Regions from separate parts of the Homo sapiens genome. Here region 2 is linked to region 1. The links come from fine-mapping of genetic effects on gene expression. Tissue or cell type: cartilage. Region 1 holds a variant in brackets; the other region holds the start of a gene. All regions are shown on one strand. Distances are from middle to middle.

What was found. PIP is the estimated chance that this variant, and not a neighbour inherited with it, causes the effect.
Region 2: GPATCH3 starts here. The variant in region 1 is the best candidate, but not a certain one, in a credible set for the expression of GPATCH3 in cartilage (Steinberg 2020, PIP 0.51).

What each region holds. Positions count from the first base shown.
Region 1 is chr1:26,246,179-26,257,012 of GRCh38, reverse strand. CEP85 (centrosomal protein 85) reads right to left here. Exons shown (of 14, transcript NM_001319944.2): 4 at 1,148-1,842. It also overlaps the pseudogene LOC124904684. Among named protein-coding and RNA genes, the nearest start is that of CEP85, 17 kb to the right of the region's middle. The variant C/A (reference allele first, on the strand shown) is at 4,762.
Region 2 is chr1:26,895,485-26,903,484 of GRCh38, reverse strand. It overlaps GPATCH3 (G-patch domain containing 3), which reads left to right and starts at 3,018. Exons shown (of 7, transcript NM_022078.3): 1 at 3,018-3,493; 2 at 5,760-6,184. The coding sequence starts at 3,043. It also overlaps a transcript of NUDC not described here. RefSeq lists an enhancer at 2,954-3,073.

The sequences.
Region 1 (10,834 bases):
GTTGCAGTGAGCCAAGATCATGCCACTGGGCGACAGAGCAAGACTCTGTCTCCAAAACACACACACACACACACACACACACACCAAAACAAAACAAAACAAAAAAAGGAAAATACAGGCAGGCACAGTAACTCACCCCTGTAATCCCAGCACTTTCGGAGGCTGAGGCGGGCGGATCACAAGGTCAGGAGTTCGAGACTAGGCGGGCCAGCATGGTGAAACCCTGTTTCTACTAATAATACAAAAAAGAGCTGGGCGTGTTGGCACGCACCTGTAGTCCCAGCTACTCGGGAGGTTAAGGCAGGAGAATCACTTGACCTTGGGAGGTAGAGGTTGCAGTGAGCCGAGAACACGCCACTGCACTCCAGCCTGGGCAACAGAGCAAGACTCCATCTCAAAAAAAAAAAAAAAAGAAAATACAAAAGTGGTAGAGAGAACACAGGGGCTCAAAGAAGGTTTTCACATTTATTTATTTATTTTTTGAGACAGAGCCTCGCTCTGTCATCCAGACTGGAGTGCAATGGCGCAGTCTCGGCTCACTGCAACCTCCGCCTCCCAGGTTCAAGCAATTCTCCTGCCACAGCCTCCTGAGTAGTTGGGACTACAGGCGCATGCCACCACACCTGGCTAATTTTTATATTTTTAGTAGAGGCAGGGTTTCACTCTGCTGGCCAGGCTGGTCTCGAACTCCTGCCCGCCTCGGCCTCCCAAAATGCTGGGATTATAGGCGTGAGCCACCTGGCCTCAAAGATGGTTTTTAAACCCCAGCTCTGCCAATTACCAACTCTATGACCCCGTACAGATTATGTAGTCTAAGAACCTGGTAAGTTTCTACATCTACCTCGTTAGTACACTATGAAGATTAAATAAAATGCTGTATGTGAAAGTACTTAGCCTAGTGACGTATAAATACGTTTTTAGGTTTTCCTTTGTAACCTTTTGCTATTTTGGAGACCCTATCTGGTGCTTAATTTGACTACCAAACAGATTCAATGGCCAACAGCTCACAAGCCTGTATTTCCTGTCTACAAACATCTTCCTTCTTTTTACAGCTATTTTCTTTAAGCCAAAATTCAAAGGACAAAAGCTATTACAATTCTAAGAACTGTACAGAACCTAGAAAATCCAAGGAAAGATAGACCTCTACCTGCATTTGCTCCATCTGTAAACGAATCAATTCCAGCTGCTGCCGACAAGTGCTGAGTTCACAAGATTGCTCTCGGGGATGCCAAGTGTCAGGACTCGGCTGCCACACCTGAGAGGGCAGAGGCTTGGAGAGCCCGGGAGCAGGCTGGAGTCCCAAAGGGAGGACCCCACTGCTATTAGAATGTGGTCCATTCCGCTCAAACACTGCCCCGCTGCCCGGTGCCTTCTTGGCCTCAGGCAACACTCTGTACAACTCCTTACTTGTGCTGGTTCTTGGGTTGTGGAAGCGGACTCGGTGGTGAGGATCTGAATAAAGTGTCTCCATCATTGCCGACTGATTGAGGGTAGATTCCATGCTAGGAATATCAAACTTCCTCGCCTCTTCTTGTCTTTCATGGCCCACTGCTGGAAACCAGGACTGCTCAATTCCATTTTCTCCAGTAGCACCAGAGAAATACATGAGATCTCTAGATAGGCCTGGAGAATGTTTCATTGCACCGAGGTCTCCATTTCTTGTCATTCCCACACTTTCAGCCAACCCTGACAAAGGGAGTTTAGAGGAAGAGGGTCCAACAGGTGTAGAATTTGGCTTGGCAGGAGAGGTCCCTAAAGTAGAAGGCATCACATGGGCTGTTGGAATGGTTACGTGGCTTTTGATGGGCTGGAAAGGAGGACTGCCACTTGAGCTGCAAAAATCTGGGGAGAGAATAGTCTTCCATAAGTAAAAATTGAAGTAGCAAGCTTTCTTGAGTTTGAATGCTATGCCAGAAGCTCTCGGCCTGTCCTGAGACCAAGCAGAGAGAGCACCATCATCAAAAGTATCAGGCAGAAAGAAACGGCAACCAAACTGGGAGATGTATGTTCCAGGATCTCAAATGCCATTCACAAGGTAAACTAACAAAAGGCAATAATGACTTCACTTTTAACTTAGTCCTTTGTACTGGAATAAAAAAAATCTTGTCAGTCAACAGACAAAGCTGAAAAACTTTTAAAAAGTTTTTTAAAAAATTTAAACTTTAAAACAAATTACTTACTTAAGGAAAATGAGTTAGGTCCTACTCTTCTGGAAGCTGGACAACTCTCAGCTATAATCAAATCTAATAAAAATATCCTTTCCAAGAGTCACCAGAATCTTCTGCGACCTCCAAAAGCTCCCCCAGGAAGGTGAGCAACGAGTCCAAACTATCTGAAGAATGAAGCGAACTAGACAGTCTTGCTCAGTATGCAGGACAGGGAGTATGGCATCTGAGGCAGGATTCTGTTCTCTCTCCCATACCCCAAACCTGACTGCCTGGATATGTGAAGTTATTCTTAGTAACTCTCAGGTTTCACTCTAGCACAGTGAGCACTCTCAATTGGGTACACACTGAAATCCTCTATTTTATATTTTGCCTTTCACTTGCCCCCTTGTGTGTACCCAACTGTGTTTTTTTTTTTTTAACTTTTCCTTCAGACTGAATTTGTGTTTCCTTTGGCTCCTGCCTGGTCTTGGGAGACAACCCTTGATTAGCCCTACTATACAAGGTTCACATTTCTACCTATTTCCAACTTTCAAGTACTACTCTGAGGGGGACTACTGCAAGCAAACAATAAGGGAGGAATGTGAGGTAACATACTTATTGCTTTCAGCAGGCAGAAAACTGAATAAGGAAATAAGGAATACCAATTTCTTCTCTTTTCAACTATATTCAGTACTCGTTCCCAAATCAAGCATATCTACCACGGAGAAGAGCGACTACCAACTTGTTTCTTTTTCTCCCCAGCAACCAACACAGAGAACACTCAGATAACAACAACAAATACTATAATTGTTCCCAGAATTATGTAAGTATAGATCAGCTACGACCTTCTCATTAAACAACTTTTTTTTTTGAAATGGGGTCTCACTCTGTCACCCAGGCTGGAGCACAGTGGCGTGATCACAGTTCACTGCAGCCTCGACCTCCCCAGGCTCAGGTGATCTTCCCACCTCAGTTTTTGTATTTTTAGGAGAGATGGGGTTTCGCCATGTTGCCCAGACTGGTCTCGAACTCATGGGCTCAAGTGATCCACCTGCCTCAGCCTCCCAAAGTGCTAGGATTACAGGTGTGAGCCACCATGCCCGGCCTTAAGCAACTCTTTAAAAATATGGGCAAGCCACCTCACACCTGTCAGAATGGCTATGATGAAAAAGATGAGGCCGGGCGCAGTGGCTCATGCCTGTAATCCCCAGCACTTTGGGAGGCTGAGGAGGGGGGATCATGAGGTCAGGAGATCGAAACCATCCTGGCTAACACGGTGAAACCCTGTCTCTACTAAAAATACAAAATATTAGCCAGGTATGGTGGCACGCGCCTGTAGTCCCAGCTATTCGGGAGGCTGAGGCAGGAGGATCGCTTGAACCCAGGAGGTGGAGGTTGCAATGAGCCAGGATCGCACTACTGCACTCCAGCCTGGGCGACAGAGTGAGACTCCATCTCAAAAAAAAAAAAAAAAAGATGAAAGATAACAAGTTTGGAGAGGATGCAGAGAAAAGGGAACTCTAGTACACAGTTGGGGGGAATGTAACACAGCCACTGTGGAAAACAATGGAGTATGTAGCTCCTCAAAAAACTAAAAATAGTTACCATATGATCCAGCAATCCACTTCTGGGTATATATCCAAACGATATGAAATATGTATGTCCAAGAGATATCTACAATCCCATGTTTACTGAGTAATTATTCACAATAGCCAAGTTATAGAATCAACAGACGAACAGATAAGGAAAATGCAGTATATTACACAACGGAATACCAGCCTTATAAAAGATGTCAATTGTGTCACTTGCAACAACATGGATGAAACTGGAGGACACTAAGAGAAATAAGCCAGGCACAAAATGACAAATACTGCACGTTCTTACTTATATGTGGAAGCTAAAAAAAACCTCGACACATAGAAACAGAGAGAATAATTGTGGTTACCAGAAGCTGGGAGCAGGGGGAATCGAGAGATGCTGATCAAAGGGTAAAACATTTCGGTTAGACAGGAGGAATAAATACTTTAAAAAAAGACGTGCAAGCCTTATATTACATGCATAGTATCTAATTTGCTATACTGAAGATGATCTTGGGGATATATAAAAGGCCACACTAAAAAAACACACACACACGTAACAAAACAAAAACCTGAATAAGTTCTGATAACATGCATTAGTCTCTCAGGACCAAGAAAGAAATTTCTCAGTTAAAGGACCCAGTTTCTGATGTCTCACAACTTAAATATAGGACTAGTACACAAGGTTAAGGCAGACTGCTAGTGATAAAGACTTCAAAGACTAGTAAGCAATACAATTTTTTGTTTTATTTTTTGGAGCCGGAATTTCACTCTTGTTGCCCAGGCTGGAGTGCAATGGCGCGATCTTGGCTCACCACAACCTCCTCCTCCTGGGTTCAAGCGATTCTCCTGCCTCAGCCTCCCAAGTAGCTGGGATTAAAGGCATGCTCCACCACGCCCGGCTAATTTTGTATTTTTAGTAGAGACAGGGCTTCTCCATGCTGGTCAGGCTGGTCTTGAACTCCCAACCTCAGGTGATCCGCCCGCCTCGGCCTCCCAAAGTGCTGGGATTACAGGTGTGAGCCACTGCCCCCGGC[C/A]CAATTTTTTCTTTTTTGAGATGGGGTCTCACTCACTCTGTTGTCCAGGCTGGAGTGCAGTGGCACGATCTTGGCTCACCGCAACCTCTGCCTCCTGGGTTCAAGCGACTCTTCTGCCTCAGCCTCTCGAGTAGCTGGGATTACAGGAGCCCGCCACCATGCCTGGCTAATTTTTGTATTTTTAGTAGACGGGGTTTCACCATGTTGGCCAGGCTGGTCTTGAATTCCTAACCTCAAGTGATTCACCTGTCTCGGCCTCCCAAAGTGCTGGGATTACAGGGATGAGCCACCGTGCTTAACCATAAGCAATATGTTTTAAATCCTCCATAACAGCACCATAGTTATCAGTTCTTACCAAGGGTCACTGCTCCCACGGTGTAATTACAAAACAGAAGACTGTGAGGTTGTAGCACATGAGGGGTTGCTACCATGAACTTTGCAATACCTCCTTCCAGTCTCCATCCATAGCACCACTCTCTCTAGATTCACCAAATTCAGTTTTGAGCCCACACCCCCTGCTGTGGTTTGAAAGTGTCTGTCCCCCAAAAGTTCATGTGTTGGAAACTTAATTGCCAATGTAACAGTATTAAGAGGTGGGGGCCTCTAAGAGGTGACTGGGTCATGAGGGTAGAAGCCTCATAATAGATTAGCAGAAGTGAGTTAGTTCTCAAAGCAGTGGGTTGTTATAAAAGCAAGCTTGGGGCCGGGCATGGTGGCTCATGCCTGTAATCCCAGCACTTTGGGAGGCTGAGGTGGGCGGATCACCTGAGGTCCGGAGTTTGAGACCAGCCTGATCAACGTGGAGAAACCCTGTCTCCACTAAAAATACAAGATTAGCTGGGCGTGGTGACGCATGCCTGTAGTCCCAGCTTCTCAGGAGGCTGAGGCAGGAGAATCGCCTGAAACCGGGAGGCAGACGTTGCAGTGAGCCGAGATTGCACCATTGCACTCCAGCCTGGGCAACAAGAGCTAAACTCCACCTCAAAAAAAAAAAAAAAAACCAAGCTTGGGTTGGGCACGGTGGTTTATGCCTGTAATCCTAGCACTTTGGGAGGCAGAGGCAAGCGGATCATTTGAGGTCAGGAGTTCAAGGCCAGCCTGGCTAACATGGTGAAACCCCATCTCTACTAAAAATACAAAAATTAGCTGGGCATGATGGCGGGTGCCTGTAATCCCAGCTACTCGGGAGGCTGAGGCAGGAGAAATCACTTGAACATGGGAGGCGGAAGCTGCAGTGAGCCAAGATCCCACCACTGCACTCCAGCCTGAGTGACAGAAATAAGACTCTGTCTCAAAAAAAAAAAAAAAAAAAAAAAAAAGAAAAAAGAAAAAAAAAAGGCAAGCTTGGCTCACTCTAGTGGTCTCTGCTTTTCCACCATGTTATGATACAGCACAAAAGCCTTCGCCAGATGCTGCCACTATGCCTTTGGACTTCTCACTCTCCAGAACCCTGGGCAAAATAAACATCTTTTCTGTATAAGTTACACTGTCTCAGGTATTCTCTTACAGTAACAGAAAATACACTAAGATAACCCCAAAATAATGCCAAAACCAAAGCCAAGAAGAAAAGTACCAACTGACCCAGAAGAATATGGCTTTTCTAATTTTTTATAGATGATAAATGGACATATTAGAAAATTAAGGTGAGGTCTTTGTCCACATTTTTAACTTATCTATTGGGTTTATCTATTTATATTAAGTAAACTGCCTGATTCAGACTAACTGTGCTATGAAATGTAAAGTTACACCAGCGGTTCCCAACCTTTTTGTTACCAGGGAATCGTTTTGTGGAACACAATTTTTCCACAGACGATGGTTGGGGGGATGGTTTCAGGATGAAACTGTTCCACCTCAGATCATCAGGCATTAGATTCTCGTAAGGACTGAGCAACCTAGATCCCTCACATGCACAGTTCACAATAGGGTTCGTGCTCCTATGAGAATCTAATGTCACCACTGATCTGACAGAAGGCGCAAGCTCAGGCAGTAATGCTTGCTCGCCTGCTGCTCACCTCCAGCTGTGTGGCCTGGTTCCTAATATGCCATGGACTGGTACTGGTCCACGGGCCAGGAGTTGGGGACCTCTGAGTTACACCGTAAGTCTGGTCTGTGGTTTAGAATATTTTGAAATGAAATAGCAACACTCATTTTCAAAGGGACCTCTATCTTCTACAATTTTCAAAGGCATTCAAAATTTAGTGTATGGGAACCAGGCAGGTGGTGCATCTCTGTAGGCCCAGCTACTCAGTAGTCTAACTCAGGAGGATTACTTGAGCCCCACCGAGTTCATGGCTATAGTACACTATGATGGTACCTGTGTGAACAGTCATTGCACTCCAGTGTAGGCAACACAGTGAGATCCATCTCTTTAAAAAATACAATGCATGGGATATGTGATTTTTATTTACAGAAATCTACAGTTCCCAAAAACTTTGGGGTTTTGCCATTTTAAGAATATAGTTCTAAATCTCTCCCCTACTTAACCACATTTTATGACCCCTCCCCACCCTAAAAAACAACTCATTTTTGAGCAAACTTCCTTTCACAGTAAGGGTAGATTCAGCTATTACCAAATCTCAGTCACTTCAGTCTACACCTGAAGTGATTCAGTAGCCTGAATTACACCAGTGACTATTTCAGTCTTTTGCAAAGAGCTGAAAGCATTCTGAACTCTTCAGTACCCACCTCTACTCTGTCCCTCGAGAATCTTTCAAGGTAAAACACCTTAGTGAAGAAGGGTGGAATCAAAAGCATGCCTATTAAATTTAAAGATGCAACAATGAACTATACTGTATACCAGTCACAGGGGTTCTTGTCAACTAGACCGCAAGCTAGATTCATGAACAAAATGTGTAAGAGTTAAGATTAGAGGCCAGGAGCAGTGGCTCACGCCTATAATCCCAACACTTTGAGAGGCCAAGGTGAGTGGATCAGCTGAGGTCAGGACTTCGAGACCAGTCTGGCCAACAAGGTGAAACCCCGTCTTTACTAAAAATACAAAAATTAGCTGGGTGTGGTGGCACACGCCTGTAATCCCAACTACTCAGAAGGCTGAGGCAGAAGAATCGCTTGAACCCGGGAGGCGGAGGTTGCAGTGAGCCAAGATCATGCCACTGCACTCCAGCCTGGGTGACAGAGTGAGACTCCGTCTCAAAACAAACACACAAAAAGAGTTAAGATTAGGATCATGGTATGTAACAAACATAGCAGTTTAAAAAATGTCTAGGCCTGGGCGTGGTGGCTCACGCCTGTAATCCCAGCACTTTGAGAAGCCGAGGTGGGCAGATCGTGAGGTCAGGAGATCGAGACCATTCTGGCTAACACGGTGAAACCCCGTCTCTACTAAAAATACAAAAAATTAGCCGGGCGTAGTGGCGGGTGCCTGTAGTACCAGCTACTTGGGAGGCTGAGGCAGGAGAATGGCATTAACCCGGAAGGCGGAGCTTGCAGTGAGCCGAGATTGCCCCACTGCACTCCAGCCTGGGCAACAGAGCGAGACTCGGTCTCAAAAAAAAAAAAAAAAAAAAAAGAGTTCAAGACCCAGACTGGCCAACATGGTGAAACCCCATCTCTACTAAAAATACAAAAATTAGCCAGGCATGGTGGTACACGCCTGTAATCCCAGTTACTCGGGAGGCTGAAAGAGGAGAATCGCTTGAACCCAGGAGGTGGAGGTTACAGTGAGCCGAGATTGGGCCACTGCACTCCAGCCTGGGCGACAGAGCGACTCTGTCTCGAAAAAATAAGAAGAAGTAAAAAAAACTTCTAGACCAATATCTTTGACCCCTATCTCGAGAAGACTATTACAACTTTTAAAAAATGCACTAGAATGTAAGTTATTTTCCCAAAAGAATAAAAAAGAGAGTCACACACACAATCTGTGTAGCAATGTAACTGAATTAAATACAGCTGGTCATTTCAATGGGGGAAAAATCTAGACCACTGATTGATTTTAAAAATATCTATTATTTAATCAAAATAAAAAGGTCCTATGACTGCACATGTAGACAAAACCTTAACAAGTGAAAATTAAATTAACAGTAAGATTTTTGATTACACAATTGATAGAATATTACACAGTCAGGAGACCAGAATCTGATAACCAGCTGTATGATGTTAGGCAAGTTACTTAACTCCTTGGGGAATTTTTGTTATTCACCAATCAAAACGAGCAGAGGCAATTTTTGAAGTCCTGTGTACCTCAAAATCTATGATTCAATTCTACTCAATAGTTACTGAGCACAGTCCCCATTATACACATAGTTGTCAAACTATCAAAATTAACTCTAGGGGCTGGGTGCAGTGGCTCACACCTGTAATCCCAGCACTTTGGAAAGTCAGGGCAGGAGGACTGCTTGAGCCCAGAAGTTCAAGAACCATCCTGGGCAAGATGGTGAGAACCTGACTCCACACGCAAAACAAAACAAAACAAAACAAAACAAACTGGCTGAGTGTGATGGTACACGCCTGTAGTCCCAGCTACTTGGAAGGCTTAGGTGGAAAGATAGGTTGAGCCCAGGAGTTCAAGGCTGCAATGAGCTTGTGATCACGCCATTGCACTCAAGCCTGGGTGACAAAAAGAGACCCTATCTTTATAAAACAAACAAACAAAAACTAAAATTAATGCTAGATGTCTAGGAACCAGTAATAGTAGATGTGGTCCCCACTACCCTCTTTTTTTTTTGGAGACAAGATCTCACTATGTTGCCCAGACTGTACTCAAACTCGTGGGCTCAAGTGATTTTCCCACCTCAGCCTTGGGAGCAGCTGGGACTATAGGTACAGACCACTGTCCCTGGCTTTTTTTTTTTCTTTTCATTTTTAAATTTACTCCTCTCAGCTCATACCTATTTAAGAAAAACAAAAAACAAAAACCTTTATTGAAATACAATTCACATATTATACAATTTGCTCACTTGAGGTGTACAATTCAATGGGTTTTAGTATATTAATGGAGTTGCATAATCACTACAATCAATTTTACAACATTTTCATCACTCCAAAAAGAAAACCTCTTACCCTTTGGCAGTCATGCTGTTTCCACCAGCTTCCGAAGCCCTAGAAAACCATTAATCTACTTTGTGTTTCTGTACATTCACCTATTCTGGACTTTAGGCATTAGTTTGATCCTCATAAAGAGCACACAACCTAGATCCCTCAAATGCACATTTCACAATAGGGTTCCTGCTCCTGTGAGAATTTAATCCCGCCACTGATCTGACAGGAGATGGAGCTCAGGCGGTAACGCTCGACCTGCTGCTCACCTCCTGCTGTGTGGTTCCTAACAGGCCAGACTGGTACCGGTCCTTGGCCCAGGGGTTGGAGACCCCTGATATAAAGGGAATCATGCAATATACAGCCTTTTGTGTCTGGCTTTTTTTTAACTTCATATATAATGGTTATTTCATTTTATTTTCTTTTTCTTAACGGTGCTCTACACATTCAGAAAAACTTCTCTAGTAACATACTACAGAAACGATCCCTGAAAATACAGTCTTAGTATATAATTTTTTTTTTTTTTTAAAGACGGAGTCTCACTCTGTTGCCCAAGCTGGAGTGCAATGGCACGATCTCACCTCACTGCAACCTCTGCCTCCCGGGTTCAAGCAATTCTCTTGTCTCAGCCTCCCGAGTAGATTACAGGCATACATCACCACGCCCAGCTAATTTTTTGTATTTTAGTAAAGATGGGCTTTCACCGTGTTGCCCAGGCTGGTCTCGAACTCCTGAGCTCAGGCAATCCACCCGCCTTGGCCTCCCAAAGCGCTAGGATTATAGACATCAGCCCCTACATCTGGCCAGTATATGTTTTTAAGGTAGCATGTACCAGTATTTCATTTCTTTTTATTGCTGAATAATATTCTACTGTATTATATGGATATTCATTCATTCATCAGTTGTGGGTTTTGGATTGTTTCTACTTTTGACTATCATGAATAATGCTGCTACCAACATTTATGTACAAGTCCACACAAAAACTTGTGTATTCATTTCTCCTGGGTATATATCTAAGAGTAGAACTATCGGGTCAGGAATAACTCTATGTTTAACCTTTTGAGGAACTGCCTGTTTT
Region 2 (8,000 bases), 650 kb before region 1:
CATTTTAAACATTGAGTAAAACAAAATAATATTAATAAATATGTGTAAAGTATAAAGAATAACAGAATGAACTCTATTGTTTCATAGGTCATTATTACCATTAACTTTGAAGTCCCTTTCTAAATCTATCATTTCCCTCCAAAGGTAACAACTACCCTGGATTTTATGTTAATCATTTATTTGCTTTTCTTCCTGATTTTAAAGCTTATTTATTTATGTAGCCCTAAGAATATTTTTTAGTTTGCATTTTTGGAACTTTGCATAAATAAAACAATTCTGTGTTTTCTGACTGGCTTTAACTGAGATTATTAGTACAAAAAGCCAGCTTTTTGCACTTAAAAAGACTGTAGCTATGAATATTTATATATACTGTGAAATAAAAAACAAATCCAGGCTTGGTAAGGAGAGATTTTATTATAATTTTTTTTTTTTTGAGACAGAGTCTCGCTCTGTTGCCCAGGATGGAGTGTGCAGTGGTGTGATCTCAGCTCACTGCAACCTCCGCCTCCTGGGTTCAAGCGATTCTCGTGCCTCAGCTTCCCTGAGGAGCTGAGATTACAGGCGCATACCACCATGAGTGGCTAATTTTTGTATTTTTAGTAGAGACGGGGTTTCACCATGTTGGCCAGGCTGGTCTCGAACTCTGGACCTCAAGTGATCCGCCCACCTCAGCCTCCCAAAGTGCTGGGATTACAGGCATTAGCCACTGCGCCCAGCCATTATAATTTTTTTTTTTTTTGAGACAGATTCTCATTCTGCTGCCCACCGAATGCATGGCACAATCATGGCTCACTGCAGCCTTGCTCTCTTGGGCTCAAGTGATCCTCCGACCTCAACCTCCCGACGTGCTAAGATTACAGGTGTGAGTTACCACACCCTGCCAGGAGAGATTTTATTTGAAAGGATTATTGCAAGGGAAGAAAGGAACTATTGCAATAGAAGGAGGAAGAATATTGCAGCAGGGAGGACCCTCTGACCATAATATCTGCAAGTGACTCAAGGGTTAGGCAAAAAGGGTTCTTCTCTCATACAGAGGAGTAAACAGGGCAGAACTGGGTGGGAGGAAGTGGGATGATCAGGAGTGGCATGATGGGACAGTAGATCAGATAATGCTTTACCTTGAAGCCAGCCTATTCTCAGGAGAGGCTGTTAAGGAGGAGATGTGCGCTGGCTCAAGCTGAGGGTAAGCCAAAGTTCGGGAAGCTGGGGGAAGGAGAGAAGTTTTAACCAAAGTTTGTTCCAACTGATCAGTGGGGACAAGAAGTTCCTCAAAGCTTTCATGAGGAGATTTGGAATATGGAGTCTGTGTCTGGCTTTGTCATTGGTGAACCAGAGGGGCATACACCAGTCTTACCTAACTCACTTGGGGAAGGATGTTTTTTTGCAATATGCTGTGTTCCAGAACACAAAACAGTGGGAAGGCATTTCTTAAGCCTTAGTTTTCCAGGATCACAGGGCTTGGGTAAAAGTCAACATTATCAATAAGTCTTCTGATAAACATGTGCAGTCATTTTTTTTATTGTTTAGACAAGGGTCTTGCCAACTTGGCCAGGCTGGTCTCAAACTTCTAAGCTCAAGGGATCCTCCTACACCAGCTTGCCAAAGTGCTGGGATTACAGGCGTGAACCACTGAGCTTGGCCCTTTATTTTTTGCTTTTGTTTGAGGTCTCTCAATCTACAGGTTCCTCCTATCACCCAGTATAATGTGTAGACTTTGTCTGAATTATGAATCAATGAATCAATAGTAATCAAATAACCCAATTAAAAAACGTACAAAGAGGGCCGGGTGCGGTGGCTTACATCTGTAATCTCAGCACTTTGGGAGGCCAAGGCGGGTGGATCACCTGAGGTCAGGAGTTCGAGACCAGCCTGACCAATATGGTGAAACCCCGTCTCTACTAAAAATACAAAAATTAGCCGGGCGTGGTGGCACGCACCTGTAGTCCCAGCTACTCGGGAGGCTGAGACAGGAGAATTGCTTGAACCCGGGAGGCGGAGGTTGCAGTGAGCCGAGATCGCACCATTGCACTCCAGCCTGGATGACAGAGCGAGGCTCCATCTCAAAAAAAAAAAAAAAAAAAAAAAAAGACAAAAAGGCGGGGACCGTGGCTCACACCTGTAATCCTAACACTTTGGGAGGCTGAGGCCAGTGGATCACTTGAGCCCTGGAGTTCAATACCAGCCTGGGCAATGCAGTGAGACCCCATCTCTACAAATAGTTTAAAAAATTAGCCAGGCATAGTGGGTTGCATCTGTGGTCCCAGCACTCCAGCCTGGGCGACAGAGCGAGACCCCAACTCAAAAATAAATAAAATATTACCTACAAGTGCTGAGTCAAATGATGTGTAGCTTTGCTTTTACTAGATAACGCCAATTGTTTCCCAAAGTGGTTGTATCAACTTACATTTCCACCAACAGTGTATGAGAGCTTCAGTTCCACCATGTTGTCATCGACTCTAAGGTTTTAAAGTTTGCCAACATAGTGGATGCAAAGTGGGTCTCGCTGCATTTCTTTTATTATTGAGTTGTGCATCTTTTCTTTAACGTAAGCCTCTAGTAACTCATAGCACTTTCATTGTAAATTGGACCTGCGTGTTTCCTCTTTTGCGAAGTATCTTCGGCCCATTTTTCTACCGGGTTATCTTTTTCTTACCGATTTGTGGGAGTTCATCAACACATTTTGGAAAAATAAATGGAAGAACGACTAAAGGTTCAGAACTGAGGAAGGTTGAGATTAGGTGTGCAATATCCACAACTAAATACCTCAAAAATGACCCCTCCCGCAGGCTTCTTATTTGGTCCTCATGAGAGCTTTATGAAAGAACTCTATGACCCCATTTTCCAGGTGAGTTTTTCCATCATCGCCGGCTTCCCTCTGTGGGAAAGGAACACAGAAGACTTCGGATCTTCCAGCTCCAGGTTCCACAACCCCAATCCCAAAGGACTAGTTAGAATTTTCACAATCTCGCAACGCAGGGGCTGGAACGTTGCTCGCGGTGTTCTCGCGAGACTTGGTTCTAGCTGATCATGTGACAATCCAAGATGGCGGTGCCCGGCGAGGCGGAGGAGGAGGCGACAGTTTACCTGGTAGTGAGCGGTATCCCCTCCGTGTTGCGCTCGGCCCATTTACGGAGCTATTTTAGCCAGTTCCGAGAAGAGCGCGGCGGTGGCTTCCTCTGTTTCCACTACCGGCATCGGCCTGAGCGGGCCCCTCCGCAGGCCGCTCCTAACTCTGCCCTAATTCCTACCGACCCAGCCGCTGAGGGCCAGCTTCTCTCTCAGACTTCGGCCACCGATGTCCGGCCTCTCTCCACTCGAGACTCTACTCCAATCCAGACCCGCACCTGCTGCTGCGTCATCTCGGTAAGGGGGTTGGCTCAAGCTCAGAGGCTTATTCGCATGTACTCGGGCCGCCGGTGGCTGGATTCTCACGGGACTTGGCTACCGGGTCGCTGTCTCATCCGCAGACTTCGGCTACCTACGGAGGCATCAGGTAAGAGTGAGAAAGTTAATAGACTGGGCCTACGGGCCTGGAACAGAGGCACCTTTTCAGAGGAGTGGTGAGGATAAGTCAGGCCTCTGGTTAGGACTCTATGAGTTTAGTTCATATTCTAGACAGAGCTTCAGGCTCAACTTGCAGGGAGTTAGTCCAATACATGGAGAAAAATAAACCGGAGAGGCTTATTCGGAAGAGCCTTCATTTTGTTAGGTCCCTTTTGAGACCCTTTCTCTATCCAAGGGGTTGATTTTGCACTAACACAGAAAGAAAAAAGGAAATCCAGTCTCTAACCCTTTTACTGTCTTTCTCTCCTGCTCTCTCTGTGCTTCCTACCCAGTCCTTTCAGTAAGATACAAATGAAGAGACAATCTTTTCTCTGGACAGCTCCCACTTTCATGGGAAATCAGTTTGATGGGGAAACAGGACAGTGCAGAGCCCTCCAGTTCACACATTCAACAAATGCTTACATTGCTAGACCTAGTGTGACTAGCTGGGTATGCAGAGAACAGTTGGACATAGTGTGTGCTCAGAATCCACAAAGGAAGACATTTGGAAAAAGGTTATTGCCACAGAGATGTCATTCTAATTGTTAGCATTCACTGAGCACTCTGTATTTAGTAGGCGCTGTTCTAAGCCTTTTGTTTTCTTACCCCTCTCAACAGTCCTATGAGATAGGAGCTGTTGTTTCTCCCATTTCATAGGTGAAGAAACTGAGGGAAGCCGAAGTTATGTGACTTGCCTGAGGTTACAGAGTTAGTTAGTGTCAGAGCTACAACAAACCTAGGCATCTGTTCCAGAGCCTATACTGTTTATCACCAAGTGCTGTGAGATGACAGAGAAGGGAGAAACTAACTTCCTAGATGGATCATGAAATGTGGCTTTCCATCTGGGTCTTGAAAAATAAATAGGAGTTAATAGGAGAGAATGGTGTTTCTGGGTTTCAGGGTAAATGGCGTTTGCAAAGACACAGCTTTGAAAGCCCGTGAAAAACTTTCAGGGCATGTTAAATTGTTCATTGTGGGCTGGGTTGCAATGGCTCGTGCCTGTAATCCCAGCACTTTGGGAGGCACAGGTGGGTGGATCTCTTGAGCTCAGGAGTTCCATACCAGCCTGGGCAACATGGTGAAACCCTGTCTCTACCAAAAATACAAATTAGCCGGTTGTGGTGGCGCATGCCTGTAGTCCCAGCTACTTGTGAGGTTGAGGTGGGGGGATCACTTGAGCCCAGGAGGTGGAGGTTGCAATGAGTCAAGATCGCGCCACTGTACTCCAGCCTGGGTGACAGAACGAGACCCCATCTCAAAAAAAAAAAAAGAAGAAAAAAAAGAAATTAGGAGAAAAATTGTTTGGTGTGGCTGGAACACATCGTATGAAGACATGCAGGAGGTGGGAGTTGGTGACAGCCGAGAATCAAAAGGTCATCAGGTGGGTAGATATCACTTGAGGCCAGGACCAGCCTGGACAACATGGCGTAACCCTGTCTGTACTAGAAATACAAAAATCAGCCAGGCATGGTGGCACATGCCTGTAATCCCAGCTACTTGGGAAGCTGAAGTATGAGAATCACTTGAACCCGGGAGGCGGAGGTTGCGGTGAGCTGAGATTGCACCACTGCATACGCCAGTCTGGGTGACAGAGTGAGAATCTGTCTCAAAAAAAAGAAAAAAAAAGTTCATCAGGAGCCAGAGCTGGAAGAAACTTGTATGCCCAGCCAAGGTGATGAGAAGTGACATGAAACTACTAGGTAGTTCTGTAGTTCCGCTTGGGGAGAGATGAAAAGACCTGGAGAAGTTTGAGAGGGAGGAACAGCATGAGGCTAATGGATTTATTTTATTATTTATTTATTTATTTTTGAGACAGGGTACTCTGTCGCCCGAGATGAAGTGCAGTGGTGCAATCTTGGCTCACTACAGCCTCACCTCCCAGGCTCAAGCAATCCTCCTGCTTCAGCCTCCCAAGGAGCTGGGATCACAGGGTGCACCACCACTCCCAGCTAATTTTTTTATATTTTGTAGAGATAAGGGTCTCACCATTTTGCCCAGGCTGGTCTTGAACTCCTGAGCTCAAGCAATCCTCCTGCCTCAGCCTCCCAAAGTGCTGGGATCACAAGCGTGAGCCACTGTGTCGGCCTAGATTTTTACTAGGGATTTACTAGATGTTTACTAGGGAAAGGCTAACAGATTTAAACATTGGCCAATTTCTGGCTCAAGTGTTGCTGGAGGCTTCTGGGTTTCAAGATCTATTCTCCCTCCTTTCCAAGGTCTGGGCTCCTTTCCCTTCAAGACCCGGAAGGAACTGCAGAGTTGGAAGGCAGAGAATGAAGCCTTCACCCTGGCTGACCTGAAGCAACTGCCGGAGCTGAACCCACCAGTGCTGATGCCCAGAGGGAATGTGGGGACTCCCCTGCGGGTCTTTTTGGAGTTGATCCGGGCCTGCCGCCTACCCCCTCGGATCATCACCCAGCTGCAGCTCCAGTTCCCCAAGACAGGTTCCTCCCGGCGCTACGGCAATGTGCCTTTTGAGTATGAGGACTCAGAGACTGTGGAGCAGGAAGAGCTTGTGTATACAGCAGAGGGTGAAGAAATACCCCAAGGAACCTACCTGGCAGATATACCAGCCAGCCCCTGTGGAGAGCCTGAGGAAGAAGTGGGGAAGGAAGAGGAAGAAGAGTCTCACTCAGATGAGGTGAGTACAGTGTGCTACCCTGTCCTTGCTGGCAGCTGAAAGAGGCCGAAGGCATTAATAATACCACTCTTCAATTGTCTATTACAAGGGTTCTTAACCTGGGGTCCTCAGGAGGGTTCCAAGGAGTCCAAGAAGGAATGTAAAACTATATTTGCATGTGTGTTTCTGTATTTCTGTAGGGAGATGGTCCAGAGCTTTTACCAGAAGATTCGTAAGTGGGTCTTATTTTTCATTCCCTTGGAAGGGATATATAAGGATGGTTCCTTTTTTTTTTTTTTTGAGACGGAGTCTTGCTCTGTTGTCCAGGCTGGAGTGCAGTGGCACGATCTCGGCTCACTGCAAGCTCTGCCTCCTGGGTTCACGCCATTCTCCTGCCTCAGCCTCCCAAGTAGCTGGGACTACAGGCGGCCACCACCATACCCGGCTAATTTTTTGTATTTTTAGTAGAGACGGGGTTTCACTGTGTTAGCCAGGATGGTCTCAATCTCCTGACCTCGTGACCCGCCTGCCTCAGTCTCCCAAAGTGCTGGGATTATAGGCGTGAGCCACTGCGCCTGGCCAGGATGGTTCCTCTTTATTCATTTTTTTCTTTTTTTTTTTGAGACAGAGTCTCACTGTGTCACCCAGGCTGGAGTGAAGTGGTGCGATCTCGGCTCACTGCAACCTCCACCTCCTGGGTTTAAGTGATTCTCCTGCCTCAGCCTCCCGAGTAAGCTGGGACTTCAGGCATGTGCCACCACGCCCGGCTAATTTTTTTTTTTTTTTTTATTTTTAGTAGAGACAGGGTTTCACCGTGTTAACCAGGATAGTCTCAATTTCCTGACCTCGTGACCCACCTGCCTCGGCCTGCCAAAGTGCTGGGATTACAGGCATGACCCACTGCGCCAGGCCCATTTTTTCTTTTTTAAAAATTATTTCCAGCCGGGCACAGAAGCTCTTGAACCCAGGAGGCGGAGGTTGCAGTGAGCTGAGAAAAAAAAAAAAAATTCCACATGAAAGACCAGATAAGGAGAGTTCATTTTCATAGATGAAAATGTGCTGACCAAAACATGTGCAGTGACTTGTCTAAGATCATCTCAGGAAATAGAGGTAGAGCTGGGATATGAACCCAGTTCTTGCTTCTTCTCTAACCTGTGCGTGCTGTCATAATGTGGCTGAACAGTCATCTCTATTTTCTGACCTAGAGTCAGCAGATTGAACAGTAGCCTCCACTCTCACTTCATTAGTGACATAGACATTTCTTTGGTTCCTTTCTCCAAACTTGGTTGCACATCCATAAAATCAAGTAAGGTGTGATTTGTTGGGAAAACTTTTTTAAAAATGTGTACTCCGGGTAAAAAGTAATTCACCCATGTTTCAAAGCTTCCAGCCAGCTGGGTGCAGTGGCTCACACCTGTAATCCCAGCACTTTGGGAGGCCAAGATGGGTGGATCATTTGAGGTCAGGAGTTCGAGACCAGCCTGGCCAACATGGTGAAACCCCACCTTTACTAAAAATACAAAAATTAGCCAGGCGTGGTGCCTGTAGTCCTAGCTACTGGGAGGCTGAGGCAGGAGAATCACTTGAAGCCAGGAGGTGGAGGTTGCAGTGAGCTGAGATCGCACCACTGCACTCCAGCCTGGGCGATAGAGTGAGACTCTGTCTCAAAAAAAAAAAAGCTCCCAGCCAAGATTGCTAAGACATCTGGACCACATCCCTAGTGTGGTACCATCCTGACTTCCCCTCTCCTCTTCTCTCCCCTTCCTTCCTTCCTTTCCTTTTTTTTTTTTTTTTTTTTTAAGCAGGCTCTGGTTCTATTGTCCTGGCTGGAATGCAG